Linked DNA regions of Homo sapiens. The protein of the gene in region 1 purifies or fractionates together with the protein of each later gene. This does not show direct contact. Each region holds a gene or a part of one and is shown on either strand. Other genes may lie near its edges. The genes, in order: SKIL and GLI3.

Region 1 (3,820 bases):
CTTTAACAGTTTCTATTCTTTAGCAGTCTTTGATGATTTCAGAATTTGCAGCTTTAGCTCTTTTATCATCATCTCTAACTTCTGTCTTGCTTCCCGTTCCTGTCTGAGTTCATCTTGGAGTTCTTGCCTATCGGCCTCAGCATGGTCCAATCTCTGCCTCAGTTCTGCCAACTATGTGATTTAAAAGGCGCTATCAATTTTAATTGTTTTGTTTTTCCATTTAATCCTCATATCATAGAAAATATCTATTTTCAAATTACTTTTTACAAAACGAACTATTTCATGTATACTAAATCCATTAAGCATCTAATACTATTAATCTGACATCTGACAGGACACTAAATTTAAGAAAAAGCAAAGGAACAAGAGGAAGGAACACATCCAGCATGTTCATGTTCATTATGCCCTATACTTTACTATACCGCTCATCACAGCCTGCTCATGTTAGTTATTTGTTCATGTTCCTTAAATTGTGAGATTCTATTAACAAAAGAGAATTGCTTATTTTTGCTCCAGTGCTTTTGAACATAACAGGCAACAGTTCCTGTTTGTTAATTTGTAGATTTGAAAGCTCATATACTACATTAAAATAATATAACATATAATATTCAGAGGGCTAGAGATTAGCAATTTAGGTAACTAAACTGCAGTAACCCGATAAAAATTTAAACTAATAAAAGCAACAAACATCAAAATAATCATCTTGGACAATACAGCATAAAGCTATGTTTAACAGAATTATCTATTTTGAAATCTAGCTTAGTAAACTGAGCTTGACAAAAAGTAATTCCTTTATTAGAGAAGTAACGGTGGCCGGGTGCAGTGGCTCATGCTTGTAATCCCAGCATTTTGGGAGGCTGAGGTGGGCAGATCATGAGGTCAGGAGTTCAAGACCAGACTGACCAACATGGTGAAACCCCGTCTCTACTAAAAAATACAAAATTTAGCTGGGCATAGTGTCGCACGCCTGTAATCCCAGCTACAATCAGGAGGCTGAGGCAGGAAAATTGCTTGAACCCGGGAGGCAGAGGTTGTGGGGAGCTGAGATTGTGCCACTGCACTCCAGCCTGGGCGACAGAGCAGTCTCTGTCTCAAAAAAAAAAAAGAGAGAAGTAACAGTTTCCATTTCCATGCTGAAAGGGCACCATTATACAAACAGTAATTCTTACCTGTCCTGCATATTCAGCCTCTTTGTCTTTTTCTAAATTTGAGTCACAGGTACATTTTTGCTTCATTATCTGCTCCAATTTTTTCTCTAAGTCTTTCTGTTCAACATAAAATTCTTCCATTCTTTGAGCATGTTCATTCTGCAAAGATTCAAGCTCTTTCTGTAAATTCTGCTGTTCTTCAGTGAGTTCCTTCATAGATTTTGAACTACTCAACATTTTTACTTCCTGTAATGTAAAGAATCACAATACAAGTTTTACTTTATTTTCACCATGTTAAAATTTTCAGTTCTGGAAAACATAGCACAGAAAATACCTAAAATTCAGCTATCATTATCAGTTCTATATAGAGGTAATTATTTTAAAAAACTATTTTCTCAAAAAATTTTAAAATATATTAAAATTGCTTTTCAGTGTAAAACAATAATCTTAAGTACATTTGTAGCATCTCGTTTTGACTTTTCTTACTAAGAATATACAGGGGGGCTGGGCGCAGTGGCTCACACCTGTAATCCCAGCACTTTGGGAGGCCAAGGCTGGTGGATCACAAGGTCAAAAGTTCGAGCCTGGCCAGCATGGAGAAACCCCATCTCTACTAAGAATACAAAATTTAGCCAGGCATGGTGGCACGTGCCTGTAATGCTAGCTACTCGGAAGGCTAAGGCAGAAGAATTGCTTGAACCTGTGAGGTGGAGGTTTCAGTGAGCTGAGACTGCGCCACTGCACTCCAGCCTGGGCGACAGAGCAATATACAAAAGTATCTTTTCATAATGGACTATCATTTAGATAACAATTTTACCATCTGAAGTTGTTGCTTCTTTTGCAAAATCAAGTTTAGTTTTTCCTGTTGTTTTAAATAAGTTCTCATTACTTCTTCCATGATTTTTCCCTTATCATCCTCACAAATGACATCTTTCACAAGAAGCGGAGATGAAGCGGCAGCAACAAGGCCAATTCCCACTTTGTTTATGTCTCTGACTAAGTTGCAAGTGGCAGACTCAGATTTCCTTTTACTTGTAGAATTATTTGAGATTGATGCATCTTGGAGAGAAAAAAATCAAGTAACAAAGTATGAATATCACTCCATTAAAAAAATCACTAGAACAATCCATAAATGTAATTTTTAAAACATTTCATTTATAAATTAGACCAAAACAAATAAAATAGGAATAAATTTAACAAAAGCAGTGCAAGTACAATGAAAACTACAAAACATCACTAAAAGAAATTTAAGACCTAAATACATGGAAAGACATCCCAAATTCATGGATTGGAAGACTTAATATTGTTAAGACAGTAATAGTCTCCAAATTGATCTACTTATCAGTGCAATCCCTATCAAAATCCCCACTGGATTTTTTGCAGAAATTGAAAAGCAGTTTCTAAAATCCATATGGAAATGCAACAAACCCAAAATAGGCAAAATAATCTTGAAAAAGAATAACGAAGTTGAAAGACTCACAATTCCCAATTTCAAAGCTTACTACAAAGCTACAGAAATCAAGACTGTGTGACATGATTTAAAGATAGACATACAGATCAGTAGAACAGAATTCAGAGTCCAGAAATTTAAAAAACTCATACTTTATAAGGCAATTGTTGTTGACAAAGGTGCCAAAGCAATTCAGTCAGGAAAGAATAATCTTTTCTGGCCAGGCGCGGTGGCTCACGCCTGTAATCCCAGCACTTTGGGAGGCCGAGAAGGGCGGATCACGACGTCAGGAGATTGAGACCATCCTGGCTAACATGGTGAAACCCTGTCTCTACTAAAAAATACAAAAAATTTGCCAGGCTTGGTGGCGGGCGCCTGTAGTCCCAGCTACTCGGGAGGCTGAGGCAGAAGAATGGCGTGAACCTGGGAGGCGGAGCTTGCAGTGAGCCGAGATAGCGCCACTGCACTCCAGCCTGGGCAACAGAGCAAGACTCCGTCTCAAAAAAAAAAAAAAAGGAAAGAATAATCTTTTCAACATACGGACAACTATATCCACATGCAAAAGAATAAGGTTGGACCTTATGCTGTATACAAAAATTAACTCTAAACTGATCAAAGACCTAAATGTAAGAGCTACAACCCTTAAACATAAATTTCTTGGCTGGATGTGGTGGCTCACGCCTATAATCCCAGCACTTTGGGAGGCCGAGGCAGGTGGATTACCTGAGGTCAGGAGTTCACCACCAGCCTGACCAACATGGTAAAACTCTGTCTCTACTAAAAATACAAAAAAAATTAGCCAGGCATGGTGGCGCGCACCTGTAATCCCAGCTACTCAGGAGGCTGAGACAGAAAAATTGGTTGAACCCGGGAGGTGGAGGTTGCAGTGAGCTGAGATGGCACCACTGTACTCCAGCCTGGGCAACAGAGTGAGACTCTGTCTCAAAAATAAATAAATAAATAAATAAATACATAAATAAATATTTCTTGGAATTGGGATTAGGCAATAGTTTCTTAGATATGATACCTAAAACAAGAAAAAAATAGATAAATTGGATGTAATAAACATTTAAAACTTTTGTGCTTCAAAGAACACTAACACGGCCAAGCGCGGTGGCTCACACCAGTAATCCCAACACTTTGGGAGGCTGAGGCAGGTGGATTGCTTAAGCTCACGAGTTTGAGACCAGCCTCAACATGGCAAAACCCCAACTCCACCAAA
Region 2 (3,820 bases), on another chromosome or scaffold:
GGGTTAATTACTATGGCTATTAAGCGCATTAAAGGAGAATAAAATAATTACAATAGCAAAATTCAAACCATTTCAACAACTTTAAGTAATAATTCCAAAGATATACTCTGTTCATTAATGTGACTCTACATTTTGCCTATTTGACTACAATCCATAACAGGCAGCTTCAATGGGATTACATTACTATCATTCCTGCAGAGAACCTTACATTACAATAGCTTGCCCATTTAAGACTGAATATCATTAAGAATACCCTAGGAGAATTTCACCAGGCTTTGAGAAACTCTCCTTTCATTCTACATTGTATTTCCTTAATAAAGGAAAGCAGAAACGTGGTGAAAACAGTCATTGTTCACAGTAAGTTAGGGAGAAATCAGTAATAATATTCCGTTTCTGCAGCGTTATAGTTACTGCCAGTGTTTCCAAAAGCAAGCATGAATGATTATGGCAAGACTTAGCTAAGGTAGCTGTGTGGATGATTGATAGGGCATTAATCAAAAGATGCATATCTGCCTCAGAATTTGTTCACAAGCTTTCTTCTAATAGCTGATTTCATGTTCACTGAGCTCTATGCCAGTTTGTCCAATTTATTTTTCAGTGTACAAGCCATTCATCAAAAAACACAATGATTTAACAGCCCCCCTTCCTTTGGGTGAATGAGTATTACTAAGTGTAACTACGTTATTCTATTCATTAAATAAACAAAAACCAAAATAACCCACTTCACATATAATTACCATGGCACACCGACTTTGCATGTATCTCCAAACACCTTTCCAGGGTTCTAGGAGCCTAGACTATCTGGCAGAGTTGAAAGAGGGTCCCTGAAGGTCATTTATACTTCTAATTCTGGGAGACACGACATTTGGGGGCTTAAAAAATCAGTACTTAATTAAAAATAGAGACCATTCAGAAAACATGCCCTTGATTTTATACAAAAGCAACTCAAAAGCATTCACAGACGGATAAGGGAAGTGCATTTTAAAAAAGATGTAGGAGGCCGGGCGCGGTGGCTCACGCCTGTAATCCCAGCACTTTGGGAGGTTGAGGCGGGTGGGTCACCTGAGGTCAGGAGTTCGAGACAAGCCTGACCAACATGGCGAAACCTCGTTTCTACTAAAAATACAAAAATTAGCCAGGCGTGATGGCATGCACCTGTAATCCCAGCTGCTCGAGAGTCTGAGGCAGGAGAATCACTTGAACTGGAGAGGCGGAGGTTGCGGTGAGCCAAGATCGCGCCACTGCACTCCAGCCTGGGTGACAGAGCAAGACTCCGTCTCAAAAATAAATAATAATAATAATAATAATAATAATAAATAAAAATAAAGAAATAAAAAGATGTAGGAGATATCCTTACAAAAGATAAGACTCAGCATTCCCACCGCAGTTTCCTAGGTCTACGATCCTCCTTGTCCTCGGGGAGCAGGGGTAGGGGTTCTGAAAGCTCTTCACATACTTTGGCCATATCCCCATTCAGGGCCTCCACCTTTTTGCTGGTAAAACCAGGTGACGGGAATAAATGTTCTCTAAAATCCACATCAACAATTAGACTGCAAGGGCTATGAGGGAACACACAGTGGACGGTGATCCTGAGCCTTCAGTGCTTATTCATAAGAAGCCAGCAACAGAAACATTCTCCTCCTCCTCGTGCACAGACCTGGGCCAGGGCAGGGTATGGGACAGCTTGTCTGGACCCAGAAGGGCTGGCCCTCGACCTTCTGCTGCTGCTCCTGCCAGGGACTGTGCGCAGGAAGGCTGCTCCACTCCAGATGACAAAGCCAATTTAGAATTTGATGACAAAAGTAGAAAGTTCTCAGCTCTGACACAGTATCACTTAACAGATTTGGGAGTCAAGGCTCCTCTGCTCTCAGAACACTGCCATCAGAGTGCTGGGGCAGAGGACGGGCGATGACTGGGCACAGCAAACGGATGTCAAGAGTCGCAGACAAAATGCCCATGAGAAAGGATGCCTCCCACGCATACCCTCAACTCTCTTGGGCAAGATCAAGGTATGAAAAGATTCTCCTGAGGTTTTCCCACTAGGGGGATAAGAAAACCTGAGCCACCACAGCCTCCTCCTTTAAATCAAGGTGGGGAGGGCCGTGGAGGAGGGGAGTCCTGCATCCTTTTGCCTCCTGTCACAGCATGAGTCCCTCTGCATCTTCAGCACTCACAGTGTCCCCTGCCTGGAACCCTTGGCTTCCAGAGCTCACAATGGCCACTTCCTTTTTTACATTCACGTTCCAGCTTAAATGTCACCTCCTCAGAGGGGCCTTCTTAGACTCATGCCCCATCAAAACGAGGCCCCTCTGCACCTCCTTGCCCCATCGTTTTCTACTGCGTGACAATTCTATTCTCATGGCAGCACGCAGTACTCTCTAAAACTCTTTCTGTCTCTCTGTCTAGGAGGCAAGGTCCAGCTGGGCCGGGCAGTGTGCCTGGCAGAGCAGACACGCAGTACTGAGTCAATGAGTGACTGAATCCATTCTTCAGTGTCTATTAGTTCCCTGTTGCTGCTGCAACAAACAGCCCAAACTGAGTGGCTTAAAAAAACAGACACTGTTTATTACCTTACAGTTCTGGAAGTCAGAAGTCTGCAATAGGCCGGCGGGGCTGCATTATTCCAGACGGTCTAGGCTCCCTGCCTGTTCCATTACCTGGAGGCTGCCCACATTCCTTGGCTCAGGGGTCCACATCACTCAGGCCTCCTCCTCCTCCTCCTCTGACCCTAACTTGCCTCTCCTGCTTCCCTCTCACAGGGGACCCTGTGATTACATCACTGCCACCCGGATAATCGAGGATCATCTTCTCATCTCAAGATCCTTAGCTTAATCACACCTGCAAAAGTCGTTCTGGCATGGAAGGTAACCTATTCACAGGTCCTGGGGATTAGGATGTGGACATCTTTGGGGCCGTTATCCTGCCTACCACACTCAAAAGAGTCACCTCAAAGAAAACTATGTTTTCCTCTGAAAACTACAATTTGACAACATGTCTGTAAAGCAGTATTACACAAACGAAGCTAGTGTCTACATCCATTTCTTTCTGCAGCACTTCAATGGCACAGGACAGACTTTGCTGATTAAAGATATCAGAATTAAAAACAGAAGGTAAATTCTATTTTTAGGGGCCCTGAATAAGAACCTTCCTAAATAGTTCATGTATTCATTCCACAATTTCCTACAAATAGAAATTATTACTATTGTTGATTTGTTTTTTTTTTTTTTGTTTTTTTGTTTCTTGTTTTTTTTTTGAGATGGAGACTCGTTCTGTCTCCCAGGCTGGAGTGCAGTGGCACGATCTCAGCTCACTGAAACCTCCGCCTCCCAGGTTCAAGCGATTCTCCTGCCTCAGCCTCCCGAGCAGCTGGGATTACAGGCATGCACCACCATGCCCAGCTAATTTTTGTATTTTTAGTAGAGATGGGGTTTCACCATGTTGGCCAGGCTAGTCTTGAACTCCTGACCTCAAGTGATCCGGCCGCCTCGGCCTCCCAAGGTGCTGGGATTACAGGCATGAGCCACCACACCCAGGCATAGTTGAAATTGTTAATAATCTCTTATACCTTCTCTAGAGCAGGACATAATCTACAGTCTAAACCTTGGTACCTGTGCTTCCCATCCTCATAGCCTCCATGTTTCTGTTCACCCCACTCTTTCCAATGAGTCACCAGAAATTAATTTTACATTCTGATTCTGAATTCTCTGCATTCAACAATTAATCTGTTATTATTTCTAAAATTACTTTTATAGCTTTTGTTTCTAAATAACTATATGAAAGATGGGGTAATTTAAGACAATAACAACAAACATTTATAAAA

The links.
Region 2: the proteins of SKIL (region 1) and GLI3 purify together in Homo sapiens (co-immunoprecipitation; one study listed by IntAct). This does not show direct contact.

Annotation. Positions count from the first base shown.
Region 1 is NC_000003.12:170,388,610-170,392,429, reverse strand, and holds part of SKIL (ski-like protein), read right to left. Parts: intron 2,208-3,820; coding exon 1,966-2,207; intron 1,395-1,965; coding exon 1,170-1,394; intron 172-1,169; coding exon 13-171; 3' UTR 1-12. UniProt on the Homo sapiens protein: May have regulatory role in cell division or differentiation in response to extracellular signals.
Region 2 is NC_000007.14:42,027,484-42,031,303, forward strand, and holds part of GLI3 (transcriptional activator GLI3), read right to left. Parts: intron 1-3,820. UniProt on the Homo sapiens protein: Has a dual function as a transcriptional activator and a repressor of the sonic hedgehog (Shh) pathway, and plays a role in limb development.